6 linked regions of the Homo sapiens genome follow. The gene in region 6 interacts genetically with the main gene of each other region. Each region holds a gene or a part of one and is shown on either strand. Other genes may lie near its edges. The genes, in order: NR5A1, CAMK2G, CYP4F12, CD22, CIT and STMN1.

The links.
Region 1: changes in STMN1 (region 6) and NR5A1 together harm fitness more than expected from each alone (negative genetic interaction), as found in Homo sapiens cells (one large-scale study listed by BioGRID).
Region 2: changes in STMN1 (region 6) and CAMK2G together harm fitness more than expected from each alone (negative genetic interaction), as found in Homo sapiens cells (one large-scale study listed by BioGRID).
Region 3: changes in STMN1 (region 6) and CYP4F12 together harm fitness more than expected from each alone (negative genetic interaction), as found in Homo sapiens cells (one large-scale study listed by BioGRID).
Region 4: changes in STMN1 (region 6) and CD22 together harm fitness more than expected from each alone (negative genetic interaction), as found in Homo sapiens cells (one large-scale study listed by BioGRID).
Region 5: changes in STMN1 (region 6) and CIT together harm fitness more than expected from each alone (negative genetic interaction), as found in Homo sapiens cells (one large-scale study listed by BioGRID).

Annotation. Positions count from the first base shown.
Region 1 is NC_000009.12:124,504,549-124,510,085, forward strand, and holds the start of NR5A1 (steroidogenic factor 1), read right to left. Parts: upstream 2,852-5,537; 5' UTR 2,701-2,851; intron 1-2,700. UniProt on the Homo sapiens protein: Transcriptional activator. Essential for sexual differentiation and formation of the primary steroidogenic tissues. Binds to the Ad4 site found in the promoter region of steroidogenic P450 genes such as CYP11A, CYP11B and CYP21B.
Region 2 is NC_000010.11:73,842,968-73,847,754, forward strand, and holds part of CAMK2G (calcium/calmodulin-dependent protein kinase type II subunit gamma), read right to left. Parts: exon of another isoform or gene 4,381-4,787; coding exon 4,258-4,380; intron 1-4,257.
Region 3 is NC_000019.10:15,689,703-15,694,489, forward strand, and holds part of CYP4F12 (cytochrome P450 4F12), read left to right. Parts: intron 1-4,787. UniProt on the Homo sapiens protein: A cytochrome P450 monooxygenase involved in the metabolism of endogenous polyunsaturated fatty acids (PUFAs).
Region 4 is NC_000019.10:35,338,862-35,343,648, reverse strand, and holds part of CD22 (B-cell receptor CD22 isoform 1 precursor), read right to left. Parts: intron 2,769-4,787; coding exon 2,511-2,768; intron 2,307-2,510; coding exon 2,043-2,306; intron 1,948-2,042; coding exon 1,684-1,947; intron 1-1,683. UniProt on the Homo sapiens protein: Most highly expressed siglec (sialic acid-binding immunoglobulin-like lectin) on B-cells that plays a role in various aspects of B-cell biology including differentiation, antigen presentation, and trafficking to bone marrow.
Region 5 is NC_000012.12:119,687,923-119,692,709, forward strand, and holds part of CIT (citron Rho-interacting kinase), read right to left. Parts: intron 2,533-4,787; coding exon 2,229-2,532; intron 334-2,228; coding exon 310-333; 3' UTR 1-309. UniProt on the Homo sapiens protein: Plays a role in cytokinesis. Required for KIF14 localization to the central spindle and midbody. Putative RHO/RAC effector that binds to the GTP-bound forms of RHO and RAC1. It probably binds p21 with a tighter specificity in vivo.
Region 6 is NC_000001.11:25,898,340-25,903,430, forward strand, and holds the end of STMN1 (stathmin), read right to left. Parts: intron 3,344-5,091; coding exon 3,152-3,343; intron 2,749-3,151; coding exon 2,677-2,748; 3' UTR 1,777-2,676; downstream 1-1,776. UniProt on the Homo sapiens protein: Involved in the regulation of the microtubule (MT) filament system by destabilizing microtubules. Prevents assembly and promotes disassembly of microtubules. Phosphorylation at Ser-16 may be required for axon formation during neurogenesis.

The sequences.
Region 1 (5,537 bases), on a different chromosome or scaffold from region 6:
CCGGGAAGCCGAGCCCGAGGCGAGGGAGCGACCTCGGGCGGAGAGGCGAAGTCCGGAGGAGGGAAGCGCGAAGAGCCAGGGCCCGGGACGCGAGAGGGGGCGCGACGGCGGCTGCGGTCGGCCCGGCGCCCACCTGGTCGCTCCTGCGAGCAGCGCCCCGCGTCCCGCCCGCGCGGAGCCCGCACCTCTCGGCCGCGCCGCCGCCGCCGGCGAGGAGCCGCACCCGGGCGCAGCGCCGCCCGCCCGCGATGACGGCCGCTCGGGCCGGGGACGGGGAGGCGGGGGCGCGGGGCTGGCGGCGCGGGGGCCTCGGCTCCCCCCTCCCGCCTCCCCGCCCCCCATCCTGCCTCCCTGTTCCCCCCCGCACCGCCGCCGGGGCCGCTCCGAGGCGCACCTGGGACCCGGGCCCCTCAGCCGCCACCCCGCCCTGCGCCAACCCGCCGCGCCGGGGCCGGGGGCCGGCCCCTCTATATCGGCGCGTGCGGTATCCGGGGGCGGAGGCCCGGTCGTGTCCTCCCCCCAAGCCCGGCCCGCGCCGGCACCCTCTCCGCAGTCCAGCTCGAGTCTTCGCCCTCATCCTCCAGGCCCCCCAGCCGCAGCCCGGCTCCCCGGACCCCGAGCGCGGCCAGAGAGCTGCGGAGCCCGAGTGCCCCGCGATCTGGGCAGGTATAGGGCAGTGGGGGCCTTGGGTCACCCGCCTGCAGTGGGAGGAGGCAGCTCCTGTCTGTGAACCCAGCTGGGTCGTGGCGAATGCCACGCGGGTGGCTGGTCGCACTACAGCGTGGAAGTGGGTAAGGGCGAGTGGCGACCGTGGCCGAGGCTCGGATTCACGGGTGGAAGCCAGATTCTCCCATGGGGCCCACCACATCTCCTCACTCGAGCCTGTAGCAGCTCTCTCCCCGTCTCGGGTCTTCAGTTGCCGCATCTGTGAAGTGGGTAGATGACCGCTCTTCCTCGCTAAGGGTGGGTCGTGAGGATGAACCCAAGCAGTAGGGGCAAAGCACGCGTGTGGCCTGGCGGAAGCGCTCAGTGGCGCCCCTCTGGGGAGATCTGGGGCGAACCCCTTCTGCTCGCTAGCCTCAGGTCGCTGGGCTGGAAATGGGACTCGTGGAAATCCCATTTTACAAATGTCCGAGGCCTGGGGGGACCCGAAGCCTCTACGGGCGCAGGAGCTGGGAGAGGAGCCCGGAGGCAGGGCCCCGCTGCTCCCCTCGGAGCTCTCACGGGGGGGTGGGGCGAGGAAGAAAGCGCTGGGCGGTCTTGGGGACAAAGGGGTTCCCGGGCCTATGGGCCAAGCAGTTGCTCTGGGCTAGGGACCATCCGCGGGGCCACTGTTTTTCAGCTGGAGAAACGGACCCGAAAGGAAGGGGCCTGCTTGCATCCTGCCTCCGCCCCCGCTGGCACCTGGGGTCAGAGAGAGTTTGGGGACCATGAGGCCAAAAAGCTGCGATCTTCAAGCAGGAAAATACCGCAATTTTGCATTGACAGCGGCGCAACCCACCAAAAGGCTCCATCTGGGCTCCCGCCCGCCTGGAGGCCTCGGGCTTCGGTTGGAGCTGGGCCTGGGGCCTGCAAGTTGTGGCCAGAGAACCCCCCGCGCAGACCGCACTCAGCTGGCTCACCCACAGAAGGAGCAGAACCCGCAGACTAGCTGTGCAAGCTCGGGCAAGTCACTTCTCCTCTCTGAAACGAGAGCCTCAGTTTTCTCCGAGCATAAAGTGGAACATGTTGGCTTTACAGATGGGGTACTGCGGTTTCCATGCAAGAATCTTGGATGAGGAGGGAAGAAAGAGCCAGAGACCCTGTTAATCGTACCCCCCGCACCCCCAAACCCCTGAGAAACAAGAGCATCTGCCCGAGCTGGAGGTGGGGGTCACTGCCGCCTCTGAACAGCTCCCCACCACAATGGAGCCCTCAGACAGTGACTGCAGGAGGGAAGGGGGTTGGTGGATGATGGGCTGGGGTGCCCCAGTTGGCTGTTCTAAGGTAGAGCTCACCCGAGGTCTCCTGGAAACCTGGAGCTGGACACACAGGCCCCAGCCGCCGGGGTTGGGTGGGGGCTGGGCTCAGGCCCTTCTCCCTCTATCTCCAATCCCCTCTCCCCAAGGGTTTCTACTCTCACCGGCTGGAAGCCCATGGCTCCTCTGCACTCCAGGCTCCGAGGCACCCACCCCCACAGGTTCCAGGTTCCAGCCCACCGCCTGGGGAGTTCCAGCCCCTCATCCACCCACCCAGGGAGGGAAGCCTAGACCTGGCCCGGCCGCAGAACCCAGGCTGACAGATGGATGCCGGAGACAGACACACGGATACACAGCAAGACTCAGAGAGAGCCACAGAGACAACACAGAAACTCAGGTGGGGGACAGAGCCCCAAGACAGGCCCAGAGCCCTCCAGACACACTCACAGACCTCTAGGCTCAGACCCACACAGCCTGGTGGATGCCTGGCCAGAGACAGCGGGACACCAGCGGACCTCCATGGGGCTTGTGGTCACAGGCCTGGCTCCTCCCATCGGCAGCCCAGGGAAGAAGAGGGGGTAGCATGGTGGGAGGGTGAGTCTGGGAGACCCCTGGCACCTTCCCTGCCCAGAGCAGGGGGCACCGGTCACTAAGTGGAGCAGGCAGTGGCCGGCCCAGGCTGCAGGGAGGCACTGCAGAAGGAGGCTGGCCATTAGAGGCCTGGGCCAAGGCCCTCACTTACGAAGCGGAAGCAGCGCTCTCACACCGGATGAGGGTGGCAGTGGGCACCAGGGGTCCAGGGGGAGGCTCCGGCAGCCCAGGTGGGACGGTGGCGACTGTGGGTGCGCAGAAACCCCCTCACACCACGGCGGGCGGCAGCCGGACAGCAGGCTGGCCCTGTCCGTCCGTCCTCCTCCTCCTCCCCGCCCTGGTGGGGGGGCCACCGGAGGCCCAATTGGTCTCTGCCCCCACGTGACTCTGCAGGCCTCTCGCCTTCTTTGTTGGTGTTTCTCTTCATTTACGTCTATTTTTTCTTCTTCTCCTAAAAGAAAAAAAATACCCCTATCTATCTGGGGGCTGAGGGTGGGGGCGGAGGCCAAGGCACTGCAGAGGCCTTGGCCAGCTGGCTGTTCCAGGCCCGCTGTGGGAGCCCAGAGGCAGGGACCCCACAGAGGCGGGTAGGCAGCCCCGCTTGTTAGAAACCGGGTGGGAGTGGGGCTTGATTTATGGGCTGCTCCCCCACCCGGCCTGCCGCCTGCTCCTCTCTCCTTGTGAATGGCTACCTCCCTGGGGCCTGGCCTGGCATGGTCTGGCCCAGCCCGGACATTGGAGTAGAGTCAGGACAGGCCAGTGCGGAGGCAAGGCCATGGCGACTTGACTAGGCGGCCTGCTGCTTCCACCTCTTTTTCCTCTTCCATCAGGTGGAAGAAGAGGGGGGCCGGAAGGGGAGCAGGTGAGCGGCCTGGACACCTGGTGCGTGCATGCCACGGTGGCCTCTGAATGTCCTCATCTGCTGTGGGCTGCTGATGTTCCCAGTCGATGGCTGGAAAAACTGAGGCTGGGCTGAGACTGCCTCTGAGGCCAAGTGGTGGCTATAGTGGCCCCAGGTTGAACCAAGTATGAAGCTAGTCCAGGATAGGACAGGGTAGCAGGAAGGGGCCCTTATCTAGAAGGCTAGGCCTCCCTAGACAACCTGGGACGTCCCCATCCAATCTCTGGGCCCAGATGGGCTCTGAAATATCCTGTTCCTGTAGGGCCCGGGTTGCAGGGTGTTGTGCCGCTCCCACGGTGACTGGATCTTTTGTGTGTTCCTCTGTTTGTCTCACATTTACTGAGCGCACACTTAGGGGTCAGGCACTGTTCCAGGCACCAGGGATCCCATAGGAAAGAGAAGAAAAGTCTCTGTCCTCAGAGGATTTACCTCCGTGCCTTTCATCTTGGGAGAGCAGGGAGGGGCACAGGGTGACTATGGGGCAGTCACTGTTGAGAACCACCCCTCCTCCCACATATCCCTTCATTGGAGGAAATAAATAAATCACACCCAACACCTCACTTATCTGGAACAAGAGGGACTTTTCTGGATAAGTGAAGTGAAGCCAACTCTCCCTATATATATTTTTTCATGGAAGGCCACTGAAAAAGTAGAAACGCCAACTATATTTAAAACCTATGTGTTTTCCAGCCAGTCACTGTGGCTCATGCCTGTAATCCCAGCACTTTGGGAGGCCAAGGTGGGCGGATCACCTGAGGTCAAGAAGTTCAAGACAAGCCTGGCCAACATGGCAAAACGCCATCTCTACTAAAAAATAGAAAAATTCACCTGGTGTGGTGGCTTGTGCCTGTAGTCCCAGCTACTTGGGAAGCTGAGGCAGGAGGATCGCTTGAACCTGGGAGGCAGAGGTTGCAGTGAGCCAAGATTGTGCTACTGCAGTCCAGCCTGGGCGACAGAGTGAGACTCCGTCTCAAATAAAATAAAATAAAATAAAATAAAATAAAATAAAATAAAATAAAACCTAGTGTGTGTTTTCCTCATTATGCCACTTAAAATTGTGTGTGAACATACAACAATAATACTGATAGACTGTAGTCCCGGCTACTCGGGAGGCTGAGGCAGGAGGATGGTTTGAACCCAGGAGTTGGAGCTGCAGTGAGCTATGATTGTGCCACTGCACTCTAGCCCGGGCAATAGGGTTTTAATAATTAATAATCATTAATTCAATAATAATAATTTTTATAATATAATTTCACCAACAGTCATAGCTAACTGATCGAATATATTCCACCTACAACGTAACAGACAACTTATTCCTCAATGTGCATGACCTTGTAATTATGTCTTTTTCACCTAGAGAAGTTCTTACAAGATATACTTCTCTTGCATATGGCTGAACCTAACTAGTCTCCCTATTTTAATATTCTTTTTTTAGTGTCCCTATTTTGTTTTATGTCTTTTGAGACAGGGTCTTGCTCTGTTACTCAGACTGGAGTGCAGTGGTACCATCATAGCTCACTGTAGCCTCGACCTCCTGGGCTCAAGCAATCCTCCTCCCTCAGTCTCCTGAATAGCTGAGACTACAGGCACATGCCACCACACCTGGCTAAGTTTTGTATTTTCTTTTGTAGAGATGGGGTTTCGCCATGCTGCCCAGGCTAGTCTTGAACTCCTGGGCTCAAGAAATCGGCCGCCTCGGCCTCCCAAAGTGCTGAGATTACAGGCGTAAGCCACAGCACCTGGCCTTAGTGTCCCTATTTTTTTTTTTTTTTTTTTTTTTTGAGATGGAGTCTCACTTTGTTGCCCAGGCTGGAGTGCAGTGGCACAATTTCAGCTCACTGCAACCTCCGCCTCCTGGGTTCAAGCAATTCTCCTGTCTCAGCCTCCCAAGTAGCTGGGATTACAGGCACCCGCCACCGCACCCGGCTAATTTTTGTATTTTTAGTAGAGACAGGGTTTCATCATTTTGGCCGCACTGGTCTCAAACTCCTGACCTCAGGTGATCCACCCACCTCAGCCTCCCCAAGTGCTGGGATTACAGGTGTGAGCCACCGCACCTAGCCTAGTGTCCCTATTTTAATGCAATG
Region 2 (4,787 bases), on a different chromosome or scaffold from region 6:
AGAGCCCCTCTCCACACACCCCCAGCAAGGTCCTGAATGAAGCCATGATCCCAGAAGCTAAGGATCGTCACCTTGAAGCATCAATTCTTTTCATCATTCTGGATGTAATTTTTTTTTTTTTTTGCAATGGAGTCTCGCTTTGTCAGTCAGGCTGGAGTGCAGTGGTGCAATCTCGGCTCACCGTAGCCTCCGCCTCTCAGGTTCTCCTGTCTTGGCCTCCCGAGTAGCTGGGACTACAGGCACATCCCACCACACCCAGCTAATTTTTGTATTTTTAGTAGAGACAGGGTTGGCCATGTTGGCCAGGCTGGTGGTCTCGAACTCCTGACCTCAAGTGATCTGCTCACTTCGGCCTCCCAGAGTCCTGGGATAACAGGTGTGAGCCACTGTGCCCCGCCTTTTTTGGATGGAAATTTGTCTTCAATGTATTTACTGCTAACTTCCTGGCCTCCTTAAACAGAGTCCATGGGACACAGTCTACACTTCCTCAATGACTCAGCTGTCAATACCAGCATCATTATGTAATTTCAGAATATAGTGATGTCCTCAGGGGCTCGAGACACACGGGACTGCAGAGGGTAGGGCCTGCAAAAATGACCCCAGAACAGAATATTTCCCCCATTCTTGGGTGCCTGTTTCAGGTTGCTTGCCCTCTCCCCTTGCTGTTGCTGTCTTCACCAGCCTGTCAGAAAAACAAATCCTGGCACCTGCAGCCAGGTGCCCACCAACACTACGGGGCCTCCTCGCATCCTTTCCCTCACCCTTGGCCCACTCTTTCCAGGTCCGGAGGCAACTCTCCCCACCTTCTCTACCTTCCCCAAGTCTCTCATTTTACCTCCTCCTCGGTGTAAATTTCTCCAAAAGCAAAATGAGAGGTCATCAGCAAGAACCCCTTTCAGCTCAGACTTCCACTCACAAGCCGATCTTCACCTGCCTCCACACTAATAGAAGTCTCAGGGGGATCATGGTCATCCCCGGGATGGACCCCCTGCCCTTGGCTCAGGAGCCCCCTCTCTTTTTCTGCTGTCCAAACCTTTGCTTCCTCAATTAGCAAGGATCTTCAACTCTTTCCTCTGGACTAGATTCTTCTCTATAGATTATAGTTAAGCCTCTCCTTAAACAAAAAAATTTTTTTTTTTTTTTGAAACAGCATCTCACTCTGTTGCCCAGGCTGGAGTGCAGTAGCACAATAATGGCTTACTGCAACCTCCACCTCTCTAGGCTCAGGTGATCCTCTCATCTCAGCCTCCCAAGTAGCTAAGGCACGTTACCACAACCAGCTAATTTTTAAAGTTTTTTTTTTTGTAGAGATGGGGTTTTGCCATGTTGCCCAGGCTGGTCTCAAACTTCCGGGCTCAAGTGATCTACCTACCCTGGTCTCCCAAAGTGCTGGGACTACAGGTGTGAGCCACCGCTCCTGACCAATATAATCTTTAAAAAGAAATTTTTTCTTCTTTAGAGGCAGAGTCTCCCTCTGTCACCCAGGCTGGAATGCAGTGTCATTATCTTGGCTCACTGCAACCTCCACCTCCTGGGTTCTAGTGATTCTCATGCCTCAGCCTCCCAAGTAGCTGGGATTATAGGTGTGTACCAACATACCCAGCTAATTTTTTGTATTTTTAGTAGAGATGGAGTTTCACTATGTTGGCCAGGCTGGTCTTGAACTCGTGGCCTCAAGTGATCGCCTGCCTTGGTCTCCCAAAGTGCTGGGATTACAGGTGTGAGCCTTACATTAAAAGCTCCCCTGGCCCATCTTAATCTAAGTATCACCATTTATTTCCCACCTCAATGCCTAGCTCCCCATGCCCCTCCTCACCCTCACTCCCTCTTCGTCTCACTGAAAACAGGGTTTCATCTTTCTCTCCACTGTCTCAGTGAAATGATGAAACAATGGCATCTAATGGTCAGAGCCAGGGGATTCTTCCCCAACTTAATCAGGGACTCTTCTGCATCTGATTCCTGACGCTCCCTTACTGAGACCCCCTGTTTCTTAGCTTCTGGGTCTTCTGGAAGGTCTCACTCTCAGTGCTCTTTGCTGGGCCCCCTAACTCTCCCTATCATTAAATGCTGGTGTGTAGTGGCCGTCTCTTCTCTACTACAGCCAATAGAAGCTCACCGTAAGAACTCAACCAGCATAGGAACAGGCCCATCTACAGCATAGGAAGAGGCTATTTCTACAGCCTCACTACCAACTACACAGAAATGACTACAATGTGGATTTCCAATTTTTAGCTTCTTTTCTAATCTCTAGGACCATATTTCTAACCACCCACTGAATGTGTCTGGCTGGAGGTTGCCAGACTCAGCAGGCACAAAATGAAAACCATCATCTTGGCCGGGCGCAGTGGCTCATGCCTGTAATCTCAGCACTTTGGGAAGCCGAGGCGGGTGGATCATGAGATCAGGAGATCGAAACCATCCTGACTAACACGGTGAAACCCCATCTCTACTAAAAATACAAAAAATTAGCCGGGCGTGGTGGCGGGCACCTGTAGTCCCAGCTACTCGGGAGGCTGAGGCAGGAGAATGGCATGAACCCGGGAGGCAGAGCTTGCAGTGAGACCGCGCCACTGCACTCCAGCCTGGGCGACAGAGCGAGACTCCATCTCAAAAAAAAAAAAAAAAAGAGAAAACCATCGTCTTGTCTCACAAACAAGCTCCTCCTCTGGTTTTCTTCTGGGTCAGTGAGGGTACAACTCTCCGCTCAACTTGAAACCTGGCCTCTCTCTTCTTTGCTCCCCCCAAATCCAACTGGAGAGAATTAAATCCTTTAGGTTCTCTCAAATATCTCTTGAATTTCAACACACTGCACATTCCCCCATCCTTACCCTCTGCTGAGACCTCACCTGGTCTTGCTTAGACTATTCCAACTATTAAAAAAGCTTCCTGAGCTCTCTGTCTCCAGCCCTTTTCTTTTAAAAATTTTCAATTCCCTTCTTTTTTTTTTTTTTTTTTTAAAGAGGTGGGGTCTGACCATCTTTCCCAGGCTGGAGTACAATGACTATTCACAGGTGCAATCATAGCTCGCTGCAGCCTCAAACTCCTGGGCTTATGATCCTCCTGCCTCAGCATCCCCAGCAGCTGAGACTACAGGCACATGCCACCATGCCTGGCAATTCATTTCCTCACAACTTCCAAAGTGTTCTTAAATGCAAATTTCATTCTTCTTTAAAACCCTTAAATGATTCCCTATGTTTTCAGAATAAAATCCAAACTCCTGAGGCAGAAACTTGTATGTCAGGGAATCTTTTGCCCCATTCTCTTGCATTCTGATATTTGCAGCCTCATCGACAACCAAACAACTCAACATTCCTTCAACTCACCATAGTTTCCCATAACCTCTCACTGTGCTAAACTCTGTCTGCAGGTTAACGTTCTGAGGACCTCGTTATTTGCCAAGAACAAGCACAGGGGTGTCACCTCCTCCGTGCAGCCTTCAGTAACCCCACCACCCACCAGGAACAGTAGGAGCTCCTGTACTCTCATTAGATTCTTGTACCTACTTGTCACATTGTAACATGACTGCCTGTTTGAGTGCCTGTCTCCCTAGATGATCTTTTGGGGCAGGGACCATGCCTCATTCATCTTTGTATCTCCAGCACCCAGACGGTAACCAGCACCAAAGAGGTATTTAATAAACACAGAATGGACAGATAAATAATGCCTCGTGGTTGTCAAGATGCCTAACTCTACCAAATCCTCTTCTTTGTCTGAAAGTTGATATTTCAGCTTGAAAGAATTGTGTATAAAAACAGAGTACGTCAACCCACACTGATAGCCTAGAGGACTCTCCTAGGACTTTAGCGCAGAAGCTTTATGCCTCAGCTTTTATGCTTTTAATGACTCAGAAACCCCTTCTGTTGATTTGTTGGATCTTGGTCACCACTCCAGTGGAGTTGAGATCTGAGTATGAACCCCAGCTTGGGAATTCACTTTGGGTTTTGCCAGCTGCTTTCTATCACCGGCTACCTGGAGTCCACAAGGGTCAACCTGAGCCCTCATCCAAGAACAGAACCAATCCCAGCCTGACAGCCATGAGTGGGGGAGAGAGGAGCAGTGGCCCACCAGCCCCATCAGCCTCCCGAGTCTCCCTGGTGACATTTATTGACCCTGGCCCTCAACAGTCCTCTGCCCGCCTGCTCAGTTATTGCTTGGGGCCCAGAATGAATCTCTGCTGGTAAGAAGGAGGGGGTGGTGCCGAGGGCACACAGAAGGCTGACACCCCTGAGCTCCTTGGCCACTAGCAAAGACACTTACACAGACCCACGGGTGCTTGAGAGCCTGGTCAGCCGTGATGCGCTTTGCTGGGTTTATGGTCAGCATCTGGTTGATCAAGTTCTTGGCTTCAGGAGTTACCGTGTCCCATTCTGGTGATGGGAACTAAGGAGCAGGAATAGGGAGAAGAATGTGGTATTGGTGAGCTTCATACCCTGCAACACTGGTTCTGTCTTCAACTCAACTCCTGTAATTGGGATACTCTGTGGTACCTAAAGCTGTGACTGGCAGAGTTGGAGAAGCCCTGCGGCTATTCCAGAACCTGTGTCAACTTAAAGACTTGGAAAGACAGACAGAACAGTCATGTTTAGAATGCCAGAACATCAGATTAGAGCGGGAAGGGGACTCCAACATTCTCTGGTTTAAGCCCAGCTCTATACTTAGGAGGGAACAGAGGCTCAGCAATGTGTCCAAGGTGCCACTGCAGTGGAGGGAGTCTCCAGGCCTTTTGTCCCTGTGTTACACAGCACACCAATGAGGCCGCTCCATTCTTTGCAAGTAAAGATCAAAGG
Region 3 (4,787 bases), on a different chromosome or scaffold from region 6:
ACTGCCCATTGACCAATGAGTGGATAAAGAAAATGTGGCATATATACACAATGGAATACTACTCAGTCATAAAAAGGAATGAAATAATGTCTTTTGCCGCAACTTGGATGGAGCTGGAGGCCATTATTCTAAGTGAAGTAACTCAAGAATAGAAAACCAAATACCATATATTTTCACCTATAAGTGGGAGCTAAGCTGTGAGGACACAAATACATACAGAGTGATATAATGAGCTTTGGAGACTCGGAGAGCAAGGTTGGGAGCCGGGTAAGGGAGAAAAGACTGCATATTGGGGACAGTATACACTGCATGGGTGATGGGTGCACTAAAACCTCAGAATTCACCACTATAGAAATCATCCATGTAACCAAACCACTTATATCCCAAATGCTATTGAAATAAAAGGAAGTAAAGAAGAGACAGATCTGCACATTAACAATATATCTTTGGGAGCTTTTCTTTTTCTAAAAATATGAGTTTTGGAAAATTAGTTCGTTTTTATTTTTAATTGGCAAATTTTAATTATATATGTTTATGGGGTGCAATGTGATATTATGATATATGTATACAACGTGGAATGATTAAGTCAATTTAATAAACATACCCGTCATCTCATATACTCATCATTTTTGTGGTGAGAATATTTGAAATTTGCTCTCTTAGCAATTTTGAGAAATTTATTATTATTAACTGTAGTCACCATGCATGCAATAGATCTCAAAACTTATTCCTTCTAACGGAAACTTGTACCCTTTGACCAATGTCTTTCCATTCTTTCTTCCTCCCTTCTCTGGTAACCACCATTCTCTTCTTGGTTTCTATGATTTCTGTGTTAATTATTTCAGATCTCACAGTTAATTAAGGTTATGTGCTGTTTGTCTCTTTGTGCCTGGCTCATTTCACTTAGCATAATGTCCTTTAGGTTCTTGCAGATTGCCACAAATGAAAGAATTTTCTTCTGTTTTAAGGCTGACTAGCATTCCATTTTGTATATATACACCACACGGAAAATGAGTTTTGAATTACAAAAGCAATGATGAGAACAGTTTCTTCTTGCACTCAATGAGGCATCACAGATAGACAAGGGTTATTCTTGACATTCCTGCTATCCCACCTAATATCCTCCCTTTCTCCAAGGGGGCCTGTAGAGATACTTATTTGTCATCTATCTGTCTGTCTGTTTACATCTATCTACATATCTTTCTATCATCGATCTCTTCTTATATTCCTTATATTTTTTGTCCTATGGTATTTACATATATGGACATTTGGGAACATGTTTTTTTCCACTCAATACTGTGTCTGACAGATATTTTTTCTGAGTGCTGAATAGCATTCCATGTTTTATTTGGCCCATCCCTTTGTTGAAGACACTTGCGTAAACATTTCCAATCATTGGAGGTATGGCCAATTTGCATTCCAGAGTCTCTGTACTGATTTAGCTTCTGGTCTGCATTGTGTGACAGGACTAGTGATCCTTTTTTTCTCCTTTTGTGTAGCTGTATACTATTCCATTGTGTGGATGTTTATCTAAACATCTCCCCATCCATGTATATTTGGCTTGTTTCATCCTTTTGCTAAATTAAACTTGTGCAATCGGCATGTGTGTACAGTGAGCATTGCTCATATGTATAAACATCACTGCAGGACAAATTCCCAAAAGTGCAATTGTTGAACCAAAGACCATTTGCATTCTACAGTTGTAATAATGATTGCAAATCCATCTCTATATTAGGTGAGTTTGATGGCACTAGCTTTCCCACAAATTTGCCAATAGTATTATTGTATTATTAAATTTAAATTTTTTGTCCATCTTCATATTTCATCTTTTAATGAGCATTTTCTTAAATAAGAGTGAGAAAGAACATCCTTTGCCCAAGTTGATAAGCCATTTATTTTCTTTCTATGGGAGTGGTCATCTGATATTTTCTGCTGTTTTTCTTTGGGTTCTTTTTTCTTATTTACTTATAAGAATGTGTATCACAATTAATGTTTTTTTTTTCTGTTTTTTTGTTGCAAAAGATTGCCTTTTGACTTTTTTGGGGGGTGCTTTTGGTTAATTTTTATGAAGTTACATTTGTTCGTATTTTCTTTTGTACCACACTACCCAGCTATTTCCCAGAGTTTTGTGGGGCTTCCTTTGGCAGATGGGAAGTTTCCACTTATTCACATGCCCGTCTCTGACCTTTTTAGTCTTTTGAATGCATCCGTTTTTATGGCATTGCCAGACTATTTTTTCTTACTGTGACTTTTCTTTTCTTTTTTCTTTTTTTGAGATGGAGTCTAGCTTTGTCGCCCAGGCTGGAGTGCAGTGGTGCGATCTCAGCTTACTGAAACCTCCTGCCTCTCTGGTTCAAGCTATTCTCCTGCCTCAGCCTCCCGAGTAACTGGGACTACAGGCACCCTCCACCACGCCTGGCTAATTCTTGTTTTAGGTAGAGATGAGGTTTCACCACATTGGTCAGGCTGGTCTCAAACTCTTGACCTCAAGTGATCCACCCACCTCGGCCTCCCAATACTCTGACTTTCTAATGGGTTTTAATATCTGGCAGAGTGGCTTTTTTTGTTGTTAAATCAACCCCTGCAAACATTTATTGTGTGATAAAGTGTATGTTTTATTTGGATTGAGGGAAATTTATAATGAAATACAGAGATTTCATGTTTCTTTTTAAGTTTAATCCAGGTATTTTATATTATTATGACTAGTATCTTTTCTTTTATTATCTTTTCATTTGATGGTTATTTCTATATGGTAAAACTAATGATTTATGCATATAAATTCTATGCCCAGTGAACATAGTATATGCTAAAGATGGTATCTGTATCAAGAGAAAAAATATAGATAATTAAGTAAAAGCTCTTGGGGCAACTGGAAAGCCTTCTGGAAAAAAGGCAACTGAACCTTGTTCTCATATCTTATGACAAGATAATGTTCAGATTAATCATTTTTTTCTAAAAGAGTCCTAAAAGCTCTAGAAGGAACCATGAGAAAATTATTTCATAGCGCCAGAGTAGGGATAACCTTATTTTGACGTAAGTCCCAGGGGCTATGAAAAAGTGATAAACTGTTAAATGAGAGAAAAGATACACGCCAGCCACGGTGGTTCATGACTGTAATCCCAGTACTTTGTGAGGCCAAGGTGGGCAGATCACTTGAGATCAGGAGTTCAAGACCAGCCTTGCCAAATTGGGGAAACTCCATCTCTACTAAAAATAAAAAAAAAAATTAGCTGGCTGTTGTGGTGAATGCCTGTAGTCCCAGCTACTTGGGAGGCTGAGGCAGTAGAATCACTTGAACCAGGGAGGTGGAGGTTGCAGTGAGACAAGATTGTGTCACTGCACTCCAGCCTGAGCAACAGAGACTCCATTCCCTCCCCCCATCAAAAAAGATACAGAATAGTGTCTACAGTAGATGGTGTGCTCCTATATAATTTTTTAAGATGCTTAAAATCAGCCCAGAAAGCATACATTAAAAAAAATAATAACCTGGCAACGTGTGGGGAGAAGTAAATGGCATTGGGCCATAGGAGTGAATTATGTTTTATAGTTTTCAAATTCTGAACCAGATAATTGTAGACGGTATGAAAATTTTAAATAGCCACTGCAAAAGAAGAAAGATTAAGCAGAGAATTCAGCTCCTTTGCTTGATCTTAAATGTTTATAAACGTTTTCCAGTGGGGCCTCTAGTGTTTTCTAAGTATAAAATCACTATCTGCCAAAATGATACATTTACTACCACATTTCAAATTGCCTGACTCTCGTGTTTTTTTGGCTGCATAAATGTCTTCTTTTGAGAAGTGTCTGTTCATGTCCTTCGCCCACTTTTTGATGGAGTTGTTTTTTTCTTGTAAATTTGTTTGACTTCATTGTAGATTCTGGATATTAGCCCTCTGTCAGATGAGTAGGTTGCGAAAATTTTCTCCCATTTTGTACGTTGCCTGTTCACTCTGATGGTAGTTTCTTTTGCTGTGCAGAAGCTCTTTAGTTTAATTAGATCCCATTTGTCAATTTTGGCTTTTGTTGCCATTGCTTTTGGTGTTTTAGACATGAAGTCCTTGCCCATGTCTATGTCTTGAATGGTAATGCCTCGGTTTTCTTCTAGGGTTTTTATGGTTTTAGGTCTAACGTTTAAGTCTTTATTCCATCTTGAATTAATTTTTGTATAAGGTGTAAGGAAGGGATCTAGTTTCAGCTTTCTACATATGGCTAGCCAGTTTTCCCAGCACCATTTATTAAACAGGGAATCCTTTCCCCATTGCTTGTTTTTCTCAGGTTTGTCAAAGATCAGATAGTTGTAGACATGTGGCATTAACTCTGAGGGCTCTGTTCTGTTCCATTGATCTAGATCTCTGTTTTGGTACCAGTACCATGCTGTTTTGGTTACTGTAGCCTTGTAGTATAGTTTGAAGTCAAGTAGCATGATGCCTCCAGCTTTGTTCTTTTGGCTTAGGATTGACTTGGCGATGCGGGCTCCTTTTTGGTGCCATATGAACTTTAAAGTAGTTTTTTCCAATTCTGTGAAGAAAGTCATTGGTAGCTTGATGGGGATGGCATTGAATCTATAAATTATCTTGGGCAGTATGGCCATTTTCATGATATTGATTCTTCCTACCCATGAGCATGGAATGTTCTTCCCTTTCTTTGCACCCTCTTTTATTTCATTGAGCAGTGGTTTGTAGTTCTCCTTGAAGAGGTCCTTCACGTCCCTTGTAAGTTGGATTCCTAGGTATTTTCTTCTCTTTGAAGCAGTTGTGAATGGGAGTTCACTCATGATTTGGCTCTCTGTT
Region 4 (4,787 bases), on a different chromosome or scaffold from region 6:
TGGCCTCTCAAAGTGTTGGGATTACAGGCATGAACCACCATGCCCAGCCTCCAGACTTTAGACACTCTGTGTATGCATAGATACAGAACAATGTCCAAACAGTATTATTACATGGAAAAAAGCAAAGAAAATTCCCAGGCAAAGTGTGGGCTCTGCCTCGTCTGTGTCATGAGGAAGGGTATATAGGCACAGACCTCTGTGTGTGAATTGTGCGTGTGAAAAATACCCCTGGAGGAGATGGGAAGACTGTGTGCAGTGAGATGGGAAGACTGTGTGCAGTGAGGACCTTTGGTGGGGATGAGAGTTCTCAGGGATCAAGAGTGAGCCGCGTCTGTCTTTCCACTATTTACCCTTTCATGCTTACATTTTATTTTTTTACCAGGTGCTTGTATGATCTGTTTAAAAACCACTCAAGTTTACTACTGTGGAGGCCGAGGCAGGAGTATCACTTGAGCCTAGGGGGTCGAGGCTGCAGGAGCTGAGATTGTGCCACTGCACTCCAACCTGTGCAACAGGGTGAGACCCTGTCTCAAAAAAAAAAAAAAAAAATCAGCCGGGTGCGGTGGCTCACGCCTGTAATCCCAGCACTTTGGAAGGCCGAGGCGAGCGGATCACGAGGTCAGGAGACTGAGACCACGGTGAAACCACATCTCTACTAAAAATACAAAAAATTAGCCGGGCATGGTGGCAGGCGCCTGTAGTCCCAGCTACTCGGGGAGCTGAGGCAGGAGAATGGCGTGAACCCGGGAGGCAGAGCTTGCAGTGAGCCGTGATCACGCCACTGCACTCCAGCCTGGGTGACAGATCGAGACTCCGTTTAAAAAAAAAATCATTTACGTTTTAAAAGATAAAAACAAGGAGCCTGTCAGGGCTGAGAGAGACAGAGTAGTCAGAGAGAGAGAGACAGGGACCCAGTAGGAGCTCAGGACTTCTGGAAGGTGGAGCAGCCTGAGAGGGGACCCTAGAGGGAGGCAGGAGAGACTGCAGGGGAGGTAGAAAAAGAGAGACTGGTGACGCAGGACAAGACGACTCCTCCAGCACAGCGGCAGATGGCCTGGAGCAAGGGGTGTGAATGGGAAAGGGGACAGTGAGGTGGGGAAGAAGGGGCCAGCTGGTCTGGAAGGCTTTTCGGGAAGTCACTGGAGGAGACAGGGCCAGAGAGGAGCATGAGAGGAAACAGGGAGAGGCACAGTGGCTCATGGCTCTAATCCCAGGGCTTTGGGAAGCTGAGGCAGAAGGGTCACTTGAGGTCAGGAGTTTGAAACCAGCCTGGTCAACATAGTAAGACCCCATCTCTACAAAAATGTAAAAATTAGCCGGATGTGGTGGTGCATGTCTATAGTCCCAGCTACTCAGGAGGCTGAGGCGAAAGGATTGCTTGAGCCCAGGAATTGGAGGCTGCAGTGAGGTGTCATTATGCGACTGCACTCCAGCCTGGGTGACAGAGTAAGACCTTGTCTCTATAAGAAGAAGAAGAAGGAAGGAGAAGGAGAAGAAAGAGGAGGAGGAGAGGGAGAAAGCAGAAGAAGAAGAAGAAGGAGGAAGAGGAGGAGGAGGGGAAGAAGAGGAGGAGGAAAAGAAAGAGAGAAAGAAAGGAAGGAAGGAAGGAAGGAAGGAAGGAAGGAAGGAAGGAAGGAAGGACTGACCACCACCAAGAAGAACAAGAGCAGGAAGAGGCCTTACAGTAGACGGTGAGGGTGCTGAGAGGCGAACGGCCCTTGCCCACACTGTTGGTCCCCTGGCACCAGTAGGCACCCGAGTGCTGGACCTTCACCGGCTCCAATCTCAGCTTCTGGCTGTGGTAGGGGAGGCTTTGGTTATTCCAGTCAAACCAGGTGTAGTGGGAGACGGGAGGGTTGGCGTCGCTCTCACAGGTCAGGGTTGCACTCTTCCCCTCCATCACTTGGTCCCCCGGGCTCATGGACACACGCAGCCTCCTGGGTGCATCTGCATGGCGGGCAGGGGGAGGGGGTGCGAAGTCACTACCAGGCAGGCCACTGGTCCCTTCTCTGCTCCACTCCCAGCCTCCGGCCCTCACTCACACAGCACTTCAAGTGTCCAGGCCTTGGACGCTGTCTGTCCTATGGAGTTGTTCACCCAGCAGCTGTAACTCCCAGCATCTTCTGGGGAGATGGAGTCAAAATTCAGCTGGCTTTCTTTCCCCAGAAGCCTGCCATTTTTCTCCCAGAAGAACTGGACTTCTTTGGGGTGGCTGCTTGAGAAGTCACATTGGAGGCTGACCGAGTTTCCAGAGTGAATCTCGGAAAGGGGCTTGATTTTCCGGACCCTCACGTCTCGGGGGGCATCTGGAGGGCAAGGGTCCCAAGCTGACCTCTCCGCTCCCTGTCCCTTTTGCTGTCCCCAGGCCTCCCCTCCCCTTGGCCCTGACGCCAGGCTCCTGTCCCTCAATTCTGTTGAAGACACTGGCCCAGGCTCCGGCCTCGTTGCCTTCATCCCCTCATCCCAGCCGGGCCACCTCCCAGATCCCCCTGCCTAGCCCAGGGACTCACACTGGACATTCAGGGCGACAGGGGAGGCCCACGAGCACCAACTATTACAAGCTGCGCAGGCGATGGTTGTGTTGTCCCAGCCAACGTTTTGGATCTTCAGCACCCCAAGCGATGGCTCCTCCCAGGCGCCATGGGGTTTCCATTCATACCGGGTAACACTGGGGTTACTGGAATTGTAGTTACAGGAAAGGGTCACTGTGTCTCCTTCTCGAATCGGCATGGGGTTTTGAATCACTGTGGTCACCTTCTTGGGAGGATCTGGAAGAAAACCAGAGAGGTGAGTAAAGAAAAGCCAGCTGTCCACAGTACCCCTTCCCTCCTGCTTCCTCTTCTCCCGCTACCTGTCCCGGGCATCTGCACAGGTCCTAAATTAATCAAAGGGGGGCTTGTGCGTCCTTCCTGCATCTGTGTGAGAACAGAAACCCTGCCCTGGCTCTCTGGCCTGGCTGTGGTTTGGTGCAGGGGTTCAGGGCACAGCGCTGAAGCCAGACGGCTGCTGAGAGGCGCACGGGCATGGGCTGCAGGTCTCAGTTTACACGTCTGTCAAATGGGGTCCTGAGGCCGGGCATGGTGGCTCACGCTTGTAATTTCAGCACTTTGGGAGGCTGAGGTGGGCAGATCACCTGAGGTCAGGAGTTCGAGACCTGGCCAACACAGCAAAACCCTGTCTCTACTAAAAATTTTAAAAATTAGCTATGCATGCTGGTGCATGTCTGTAGTCCCAGCTACTCAGGTGGTCGAGGCAAGAGAATCGCTTGAACCCGGGAGGTGGAGGTTGCAGTGAGCCGAGATCAAGCCACTGCACTCCAGCCTGGGCAACAGAGGGAGACTCCATCTTAAAAACAAGAGGCAGTGCGGGGTGGGTGGGGGGTGAGTCCTGAGAGTTCCTAACCTCCTGGGAATTGTTTCAAGAAGGAAATGAGATGACTCCCTTAGAGCAGAGTGTGGCGTGTGGCAAACACTCCACAAACATCACTGTGGCTGCTGTGGTCACGCATCCAGCTGTCTGAGATGCTCAGGATTTGGGCACCCCTGTCCTGTTAGCACATATGACATCTCAGGGTCCAAGGATCGAGCTTATGTGTTCTTTTTGTCCTGTGCTCTACATGGTAACAAGATTCACTGTGTTAAAAGGGTCTTACAATGGAGAGGTAATGAGACAGTTTGCCCCAGTTCTCATTAAAAATTTCAAGATCTCTCAAGACTCAGCCACTGCCTAGGGACGCTAAGTCTCTGTGTCCCTCATGGAGTCCTGGTATCTTGCAGTTAATTATTCTTTTTTTTTGGAGACAGAATCTCACTCTACCCAGGCTAGAGTGCAGTGACATGATCTCAGCTCATTGCAACCTCTGCCTCCTGGGTTCAAGCGATTCTCCTGCCTCAGCCTCCCAGGTAGGTGGATTTCAGGTGCCTGCCACCATGCCCGGCTAATTTTTTGTATTTTTAGTAGAGACAGGGTTTCGCCATGTTGGCCAGGCTGGTCTCGAACTCCTGACCTCAGGTGATCTGCCCACCTTGGCCTCCCAAAGTGCTGGGATTACAGGCGTAAGCCACCATGCCTGGCCAATCCATTCTTTTTTTTGAGACAAGGTCTCACTCAGTCACCCAGGCTGGAGTGCAGCGGCATGATCACAGGCTCACTGCAGCCTCTACTTCCAGGCTCAGGTGATCCTCCCACCTCAGCCTCCTGGGTAGCTGAGACTACAGGCATGCATGACCATGCCAGGCTAATTTTTTTTTGTAGAGATGGGGTTTTACCATGTTGCCCAGGCTGGGCTTGAACTCGTGGCCTCAAGTGAGCTGCCTACCTTGGCCTCCCAAAGTGCTGGGATTACAAGTGTGAGCCACTGTGCCCAGCTCACACCTATAATCCCAGTCCCAGCATTTTCTTTTTCTTTTTGAGACCCAGGTCTTGCTCTGTCACCCAGGCTAGAGTGCAGTAGCAGGAACATAGTTCAGTCTGCAGCCTTCACTTCCTGGGCTCAAGTGATTCTCCCTCCTCAGCCTCCCCAGTAGCTGGGACCACAGGCACGCACCACCATGCTCAGCTAATTTTTGTATTTTTTTGTAGAGATGGTATCTCGCTGTGTGGCCCAGGCTGGTTTCAAACTCCTGGGTTCAAGAGACCCTCCTGCCTCAGCCTCCTAAAGAGCTGGGATTGCAGGCGGGAGCCACCGCACCTGGCCTCATTCATTCAACAAGCATCTACAGGCCGGGTGCGGTGGCTCACGCCTCTAATCCCAGCACTTTGGGAGGCCGAGGCGGGTGGATCACGAG
Region 5 (4,787 bases), on a different chromosome or scaffold from region 6:
TGATGAACTAACTGGTACAGGCTAGAGCTAGGTACAAAAGTTTGTGAATGCTTTGAAAGAGTAACAAAGTGCAAAGAGATGACTGCAGGGAGGTGCCCAGGGCAGGCACCGGGCGCTGACAGCTCCGAAGAGCCTCAGCCACCTGCCCCTCCTGGAGACAGGGGTGTCCGTGCCGAGGTGGGTCTGGGCCCCGCTGAGCCAGAGGGTGGCTGAGCACGTGGGCGCTTGGGTCCCCATCAGCAGAGTTCCATAGTGTGTTTGGTGTTTTCCTGCAGATCAAGATGAGGAGTTGGTTTTTCTGGCTGAGATTTATACTGAAGACTGGTCCCAGACCTAGGAGTGAAATAAGGAGGAGTGTTAGCCATCCGAGGCCAGAAGTTGCTGTGCTCACCTTGCATGATGCAAATGGGAATCTGCAGCCCCTGGGCTATCCCCTTCAGCAGCTAGCAGTGAGTGCTTGGCAGGGCAGCACCCGCTCCAGAGCCTGGGGAAGCCAGGGAGTGAAACTCACTGGAAAATCCCAAAGCCGTGTGTGTACCTGCGATGCTGTAAGCATGTGATACACACACATGCACATACACAGTTTCATCGGTCAATTGGGAGGGATAAGAAGCCATATGGATGGTGTTTCCTTCTTTCTTTACCAGCAGGTGAACTGCAGGTGGCATCAGAAGGAGAATGCCACCCAGAAAATCAGCCCCAAATGGCAGAAAGGTGGCTCCTTGACCTGCTTAGCCTGCTAAGGAGGCACCAAGCACTTGAGCCATGCCCTGCCTGGGGGAGCCCCTGGTCTTCCACACCCATCCCTCTCCTCGATCGCAAACCTAAAATTACACAGATCATTCATGCACATGATTTAAACATTTCCAAAAGTTCAAAGTTCTTCTGGAAGGCAACCACTGTGAACACTTTCTGTGTAGCCTTCCAGAAAAACAATTTATATATACACATGTGTGGGCTGAGCGTGGTGACTCACGCCTGTAATCCCAGCATTTTGGGAGGCCAAGGTGGGAGGATTGCTTGAGCCCAGGAGTTCAAGACCAGCCTGGGCAACATAGCGACATTATGTCTCTAAAAAAAATAAAAAGGGCCGGGGGTGGGGGTGGGAATCAGACAGATGGTGGCTTGAGCCTGTAGTCGCAGCTATTCAGGAGGCTGAGGCTGGAGGATCACTTGAGCCCAGAAGTTCAAGGCCGTGGTGAGCTATGATCACACCACTGCACTCCAGCCTGGGCAACATAGTAAGACCCTGTCTCTAAAACAAAACAAAACAAACAAACAAACAAACAAACAAAAAGTGGGGGAAAAAGTTAGCCAGACATGGTAGCTACAGCCCATATTCCCAGCTACTCAGGAGGCTGAAGTGAGAGGATCACTTGAGCCCAGGAGTTTGAGGCTGCCGTGAGCTATAATCACGCCACTGCACTCCAGCCTGGGGTAACAGAGCAAGACGCTGTCTCTCAAAAGAAAAAAAAAAAAAGAAAAGCATATGTGTGTATGTGTGTGAATCTATATCTATGTTTGAAAAAAGCATGCAACATTTCATATAGGATGCTATCATTTGGGTTTCAAAAGGAGAGCACACATATATATTTGCTGGTACGCACAGAATATCTCTAGAAACTGCTACCACTTGCCTCTGGAGAAGGGAAAACATTTTTTGGTAGCTATTATATTTTGAGTTACATGCATACATATTTTCCTTTTCAATTACACACACGTTATCCATTTGCTTAGGAAGCTCTTTTTTTTTTTTTTTTTTTTTTTTTTTTTAAGACAGAGTCTCGCTCTGTCACCCAGGCTGGAGTGCAGTGGCGCGATCTCGGCTCACTGCAAGCTCCGCCCTCCGGGTTCACGCCATTCTCCCGCCTCAGCCTCCCAAGTAGCTGGGACTACAGGCACCAGCCACCACACCCGGCTAATTTTTTGTATTTTTTTCGTAGAGACGGGGTTTCACCACATTAGCCAGGATGGTCTCGATTTCCTGACCTCGTGATCCACCCGCCTCGGCCTCCCAAAGTGCTGGGATTGCAGGCGTGAGCCACCACGCCCGGCCAGGAAGCTATTTCTTAAGGTACATTTTCTTCCTAAATTCCTGTGTCTCGCAAAGTCTGAATTACAGTCATGGAGTTCCTTTTTTAAACAACAGTGGCCCCGTGGGGGCCTCAGTTCCCCAAGTCACTCCTGGCCTCCGCAACAGACACACAGGCCTCGGAATGCTGCCTCACCTTGTTCACCTGGGACAGCGGGGTCCTCACGGCTCCCGCAGGCAGCCGGCCCCTGCTGCTGTCTTCAAACAGCCTCCCGGGGGACCGCTCTCTCCGCGTGCTGAGCATCCGGCCGGGGGACTTCTCTCGCTCCAGGGGGCGGCCAGGAGACTTGTCCCTGCGCAGCTCGGTCCGCCCCTCGCGGTAGCGGTGGGGTGTGCTTGGCTCTCGCGGGTGGCTGGGGCCTTCGGGCGGCGCTGGGCTGGAGGCCACGCGCTTGGTGATGTGCTCGTTGTACGTGGGTGGGCCTCGCTTGTTGGGGCTGCTGGCGACACAAGAGGAACGTAGGGAGCTGCGAGGCCACAACCCCAGAGGGGCATTTTCCTTCTTACCTGAGCAACCCCCTCCTTGACCCAGCCTCACCACTGATTATCAAGAGATTAGACCTGGAGTTCTTTGGACTTTGCCTGCATTTGATTTTGGTAGCAAAGACAGGGAAGAGAGCAAAGATGGCAACAAAAGACAACCCACCTTCCTCAGTGCAGGCTTTCATTTACTGAGCACCTACTGTGTGCCAGGCCTGTGCTAAGTTCTTCATCTGCCATCTCTCATTATCTCATTAAATCATCACAGCAGCTCCTGAGCTATGAACAAGCATGACCCTCACTGTACAGGCAAGAAAATGGGGACAGACAGGAGTTAGGTGACTTGCCTGAGCTAATGAGTGGTAGAGCTGGGATTCCAATAAAGACCAGTTTGATAGGCCAGGCGCAGTGGCGCACACCTGTAATCCCAGCACTTTGGGAGGCCGAGGCAGGTAGATCACGAGGTCAGGAGATCGAGGCCAGCCTGGCCAACATGGTGAAACCCCGTCTCTACTAAAAATACAAAAATTAGCCGGGCGTGTTGGCGTGTGCCTGTAGTCCCAGCTACTCAGGAGGCTGAGGCAGGAGAATTGCTTGAACTGGGGAGGCGGAGGTTGCAGTGAGCCAAGATCGGACCACTGCACTCCAGCCTAAGTGACAGAGCAAGACTCCGTCTCAAAAAAAAAAAAAAAAAAAAAAGACCAGTTTGATGTCATAAGCCCCATATAATATCCTACTGACCTACTATTTCCCAGAGCCTAGAAGGCACAGAAGGAAGTCATCAACTAGGAGGTCAGCCTACTAAGACCCAGAAGTCAGGGACCCACAAAGGCCCTCAGTGCAAGGAAGCAGTTTGGAGAAACCCTGTACTGATCACTGTTAACTGCCATGTCTGTCCCACTCCTGGGCCTCGTGTTTGGTCACCTCTGCCCCCATGTGGCTTTCCAAGAGTCTCTGACACCTGATGCAAATGCAGATGCTCAGAAGGTGGATGGTTCTCAGTCATGACAATAAGACGACCGAGAGGTGTAGGGATCAGGCCTGATAGAGTCAGGAAACTGAGCAGGGCAGACAAAGTAAAGCGGGCTCAGAAAACGTCCCAGGCCTCAAAGGTTGATAATTAGTAACCAAGCAGTTGAAAACACTGCGGCCTTTTTGTACAACCCAACCCAATCCTCCACCCACTCCTGGCCTGGATATTTCAAATGAAGATTTCAGCAGACCCAGGGGCCAAACTCCCTCTCTGAAGATGTAGTAAGACCTACAAACACAGAGAGAACTGAAATGTGGCCTTCTGAGTCAATTCTTTCCCACCCTTGATCAGCTCTAAAAGTACTAGGGTCCCTATTATCTCAGCATAATTTGTGCTTGGAAAAGGCCCTACTTAAAATGGAGGAAAAAAATTACAGTGAATATTACTTGAAAACATATTTTGTTTGATTGAGGCTTTATCTTGGAATATAAACTTATTTTATGCTAGATATTTTTAGTATTTAAATTACAATGCAATTACATGCTGATTCCAAAAATGAACCAAGCATGAATCACAGAATGATTTGTTTTGTGCTAATTGTCTCAACAAAATTGCTGCTAACATGCTCTGACACCAACGTTGGACACATTGGACTTTTGCAGTGGATCCTAAAGAAGGCTCTTCAAAAATATTTGAAAAAGCCGGGCACAGTGATGCATGCCTGTAGTCCTAGCTATTAGGAAGGCTAAGGAAGGAGAATTGCTTGAGCCCAGGAGTTCAAGACCAGCCCGGGCAATATGGCAAGACCCCGCTTCTAAAAAACTAAAACTAAAAATTAAAACAAGAAAAGTGTTTTCCCAAAGGACTATCTTAATCCTTGATATTTAAATCCTTCTCATTGGAAGAGGCTATAATTTTATCAACTTGTTCATTTCTTTCTTCAATTATTGGTCTAACTGTATCAGAACCTCTTCTGTCAACGTCCATAATTGAGAAGCGACAGCAAAGACAGTGTTTATTGTGGAAGGAGAGACTCTAGAACAGGCTTGAGGGCCAAATCCGGAAGATGCTTGTTTTTATAAATACAGTTTTATTGGAATGAAGCCATGCCCATCTGGTTATGCATTGTCTTACAGCTGCTTCCGCATGACCACAACAGGGTTGAGCAGCTGAGACAGAGACCATATGGCTCACAAAGCCGAAAATATTTACCATCTAAACCTGTGCAGAAAAAGTTTGCCA
Region 6 (5,091 bases):
TTCCCAGACCACAAAGCCCTCTGTGGTCACTCCTTTCACCAAAGCACTAAAGCACCCTGGTGAGTACAAGTATGTGGTCGAGAGCCTCACCCTCAGGTAAGTAAGCATTCTACAGCTCTCCTTCCCCTCACATGGGCACGTGATATGCTGGTCCCACCCCATCTTTTCTCCATCCCTAGCGCAAAGGCCAGTGTGGAGCACAATCTAGGTGCTTGTCAAATGTTAATTTAAGGGCCTCCTTCACGTCCTTCAAACCTCTCTCCACTGAGCCCAGTCAACCATAAGGCCCAAGTACAAAATCCTCAGGAAGGGACAAGCCTCATTTTCCATTCAAGACAAAAGGAATGGAGTCTGCTCCTTGGTGACAGCCCCAACTGCTTGTCAAACCACTCTGGCCTTATTAGGCCAATCTATTGGAAGTACTGCTGGGAGAGGCTGGCCCCACTGGGACAGACGCAGACTCCCGTGATGGCAGAGAATGCCGGGCCCGGGAATGCATACCCAGAGACACTTCCCCAGAAGCTCGTAGGTGCCACCGCTCCTCCTCTTCACTCCAAGCCAGATGCAAAGAATGGGGGAGTGAAAGTTACTTAACTGATCTCCCCCAACCATCTCATTTTATCCAGGAGAAAATGGGGGCCCAGGACTAAGTGCTTCTCCAAAGGTCAAGGTGAAATAGAAAAGCCAGAGCTTCTATTTCTGTGGTAAGATGCATCCCCTTCAGTTTCCTGTGACTTAAGCCTGTCACAAGGCAGGGGCTCAGGATCGCCCTCTGATAGGAAGTCAGGGCCACCATGGGATGGGTGGTAACTGATGAGGCATCCTTTCAGGCCTGTTGATCCTTCCCTTGCTTTCTCCTGAGGCCAGTTTCCCTCCCTAAATGTCTTAGATGAACAAAAGCTCACTGCCACTTGTAGGACACCTCGTATCATTATGCCAAGTTTCTACCCTCAGGCCCTCTTTATATTCCCATCTATTCAGAACTGGTATTTTAAAGATCCCAGAGCACCTGCTATGTGCCAGAGACAGGAGCCAAGATGAACTGTGCTGCACCACTGCACACAAGCCTCATCCTGTCCTCTTGGTTTAGATATTGCTCAGAACCTATTGTTGTATTCAACTATACTTGCACTTGCTCCTATTTGCCCTACATGGGCGTAACTCCTTAAACCAAGCTTTGTTCAGAATTCCTCTGATTGATCATTTAAGTAAATTTAAAAGTCAATTTAAGGAATATAAAAACTGCATAATTTCCAACTCAAGAGTATAAACTTAGATCACTCATTAGCCTCTGGTTGAAAACAGTAATCGTGATTTATACGGAATGCTAAATATCTATGTTCTAAGTGTGCTCTCTTGCCACAAACCCATTTAATCCTAACAATCTTAGGAGGTAAGTTGAGGTAGGCTGTTATTGTTCTCATGAATAAGTTTGGTAAAACCCCAATCTCAAGATACAGCCCAAGCAGCAGAGGCACATGCGTTAGCAACACATGGACCCCACCGCAGTATTAGCAATCATCTTTTGCTATAAGTGCTTGGCTTCCAAGAGCTTTTATACAGATGTCTGAGAGGCACAAAATATGTATAATTAGGCTATTTCTCAAATAGCACAGGAAAGCTGCCAAAGGCGTTCCCTGAATTGAGAGGCAAAGCACTGACAATGGGGACTATTACAGCCTCTGGATACAAGATGACGTATCTGCCAACCTTAACCACCCGAGTCAAATGCTACTTTAGAAATAATTAAGGTTCCCTTTAGTCATTTCACAGGAGTTGCTACAGCAGTACATAAAGTTTTATTAATATTCTGATTCTCGTGTCATAGCTTTTATGGCAGGAAAGGATGAGGACATGCCCCACCTGTAACGTAGAGCAAGCAAACCACCAAGTAGAATCTTGAGATTCTCTCTCAACTGTTCTCTAGAAACACGCTTGTGCTTTTAATCTGCCTTTTAAAAGGGACACAGAACAAAAAATGGTTGTTTGCAAATAAACATCTGAAAGAAAGTAACAGCTGACCTGGGCTGAGGCATCCAAACAAAGCAGTCATTGTGGAAGGAGACAATGCAAACCACACTGGGGCAAGAAACGGGGCAGAGAACGTGCGGTCATTTGTGCGTTGGGTATTTCTACCAGCCCCAAAGGCCCCATCTGGAACAAGTATCAACCAGGAGGGGCTCTATGGCTTGATTTATTAACCTAACTCAAAAGAAGTCACTGCCACCAACAGCACTGTGCAGTTTTATTAACCATTCAAGTCCAGTAGCATCTGGTAAGATTGGGACAGAATTGGGATTGAAAAGTGAACAGATATTCAGCATCTAACAGTTCAAAAGAAGCCACTACATACTCTTTTCACAAATATGTTTTCACAGAGCCAATACAGTACTAGCCATTAACCCAGTACACCAAGTGTACTGAAGTAGAAAAGATGCAACAAGAAAAATAGCTACATTAGAAAGACCAACACTTTAGAAAAAGAGTAAAACACTTTCAGTTTCTCCCCTTTAGCCCCTAAAACAACATCTTACAGTCTGGATCTGGATCTACCTATACAGTCCTACATTAGCTTCTAAAATATTTGTCAGGAGGGAAAAAATAAAATGACACTGGCCAGTACAGTCTTTGGATATTTAGGAAGGGGATGGGGAGAAAGTCAGTTCTCAGAACAAATTAGTCAGCTTCAGTCTCGTCAGCAGGGTCTTTGGATTCTTTGTTCTTCCGCACTTCTTCAATGTGCTTATCCTGTAAAGGAAGGGTAAGGTGTCATCAGTCAAAAAAAAAAAAAAAAAAAAAAGCCTGTCAAGTCACGACCCCCAGCCCCCACCTCAAAGAGGCCCAACACAACCTCAGTGCATATATTACAGCCTGTGGGAACCACACAATTTAAGTTCTGAGACATCATCATCAAATCTCCTGGGTCCCTTGTAGAACCTAACAAGCTGCCTACTGGACTTCCAAGGACTGTGCAATTATGCTGGGAATTACTGAATATTCCATCTTAAAATATACCTTTCATTTAATATGTTAAGCCCCAAAATGGATGACAAAAAGACACCAAACACCTTTTATCAAAGCACTTAGTTCAAGCCAACTCATTGGTGCATCAAACTCCAAGCTCAACCCTTTTACAAAGTAAGAAACCAACCTTCTCTCGCAAACGTTCCAGTTTGGCAGCCATTTGTGCCTCTCGGTTCTCTTTATTAGCTTCCATTTTGTGGGTCAGTTTCTCTTCTGCCATTTTACTGAAGTTGTTGTTCTCTTCTATTGCCTTCTGAAGCACTTCTTTCTCGTGCTCTCGTTTCTCAGCCAGCTGCTTCAAGACCTCAGCTTCATGGGACTGGAAAAAAAAGTTTAATAGGCTAGGCACTCTAAAATGTATTCAGGCTGGGTGTGGTGGCTCACGCCTGTAATCCCAGCACTTTGGGAGGCCAAGGTGGGTGGATCATTTGAGGTCAGGAGTTCAAGACCAGCCTGGCCAACATGGTGAAATCCTACCTATACTAAAAATACAAAAATTAGCCGGGCGTGGTGGCGGGTGCCTGTAGTCTAAGTTACTTGGGAGGCTGAGGCAGAAGAATTGCTTGAACCCGGGAGGTGGAGGTTGCAGTGAACTGAGATCGTGCCACTGCACTCCACCCTGGGTGACAGAGACTCTGCCTCAAAAAATAAAATGTATTCAGCATAAGTTAAAATTACAATAAAAATAATTTACTAAGGGGATTGAAAAGGGGCAGAAAATAAGGTCCCTTTAAATAACACCAAAATTAGGACCTGAATTATCCCTATCATAAAATACTGTGAAAATGATATTCTTTTTCTAGTATTTGTATTTAACTTTGGAAAAGTGCTTATCTGTTCAGAAATCTTACCCAATTAGTCCTTAAGGAAATCCTTGTAAGATTTACTGCTTAATGGTATCTGGATGACTTGAGGAATATGTACTTGCGAGTGGCACTTTTATTGTAAAGAATTTCACTATTTAACTTCAAAAGCTACCCAAAGAAAACTAGCTCATTGTAAAAATTTTAACCATAACTGATAAAACAATGATAGGAAATTCAAGACTAAGTCTGTAGATTACTATTTAAGACAGAAAAATTTGTTTCAAGGAAAAGGCTTATTAGCTTTTGTCTCAGGAAACTGCATTAATTACCAGACCATACCTTGGTATGACCCCTTCAACAGAACAGCTTGTTCTCAAAACACATTGGAACCACTGACTTGCAGGATAACCACAGAGCATCTGACACTGGTTCTATTGATTCTCTTCTGCCAAATCCTAGTCATGATGGGAGTTTCATTATATTTAGCCAGTTACTATGTAAAGCACAGGCTAATGACTACAGGGCCAGGGTTGATGTCTAAAAAGCTTTCCACTGTCCAACCTTTGGTTGTATTGCTTCCTCCTACTCCATGAACTCACACTATTGCATAGAAGACGACTCCTTAGTGTAAGCACTGAGGCTCTTCGGGCGGGTGTGTGTGTATACTACAAATCACTATGCTGGTCTGGGGAAGGTTATTACCTTACCTTTTGTGCCTCACTTGCCCCAGCTTTAAAATCAATCCTATCAGGGTTGTTGAGAAAGGGAGTTAAATGAAAAGTTATGTACAGTTGTTAATGAGTAACATTGAATGGAAAGAAACACACCAAAATGTTAACACTGGTTGCTTCTCGGAAGCGGGATAATGAATACTTTTAATTTCCATTTATAAATTTCTGTATTTCCCAAATTTTCTACAACTAGCATATTAATATTTATTGATTCTTCTGATTAGCTTTTAAAGATAGTTACTTTATAATAGAATTGTTTAGATAAGAGAAAAGCTACCATGATACCAGCTGAGCAACACAATCACACTAGCAATTTAAAATGTTATTGTACAGCTCTCAAAAAACAAAACCAAAGTGCCAAAGAATCATCTGGCAACAAATCTTTTCAAAGAGGAAGCATGAGAGAAGCATGAGCTTTGGTTTAAGATAGACCAGGGCTTGAATTCTGACCCCAACACTTACTAGTTGTATGACTGCAGAAAAACGACTTAACATTCCTGAAACTGTTTCTAATTTCCATTATTTGAGGC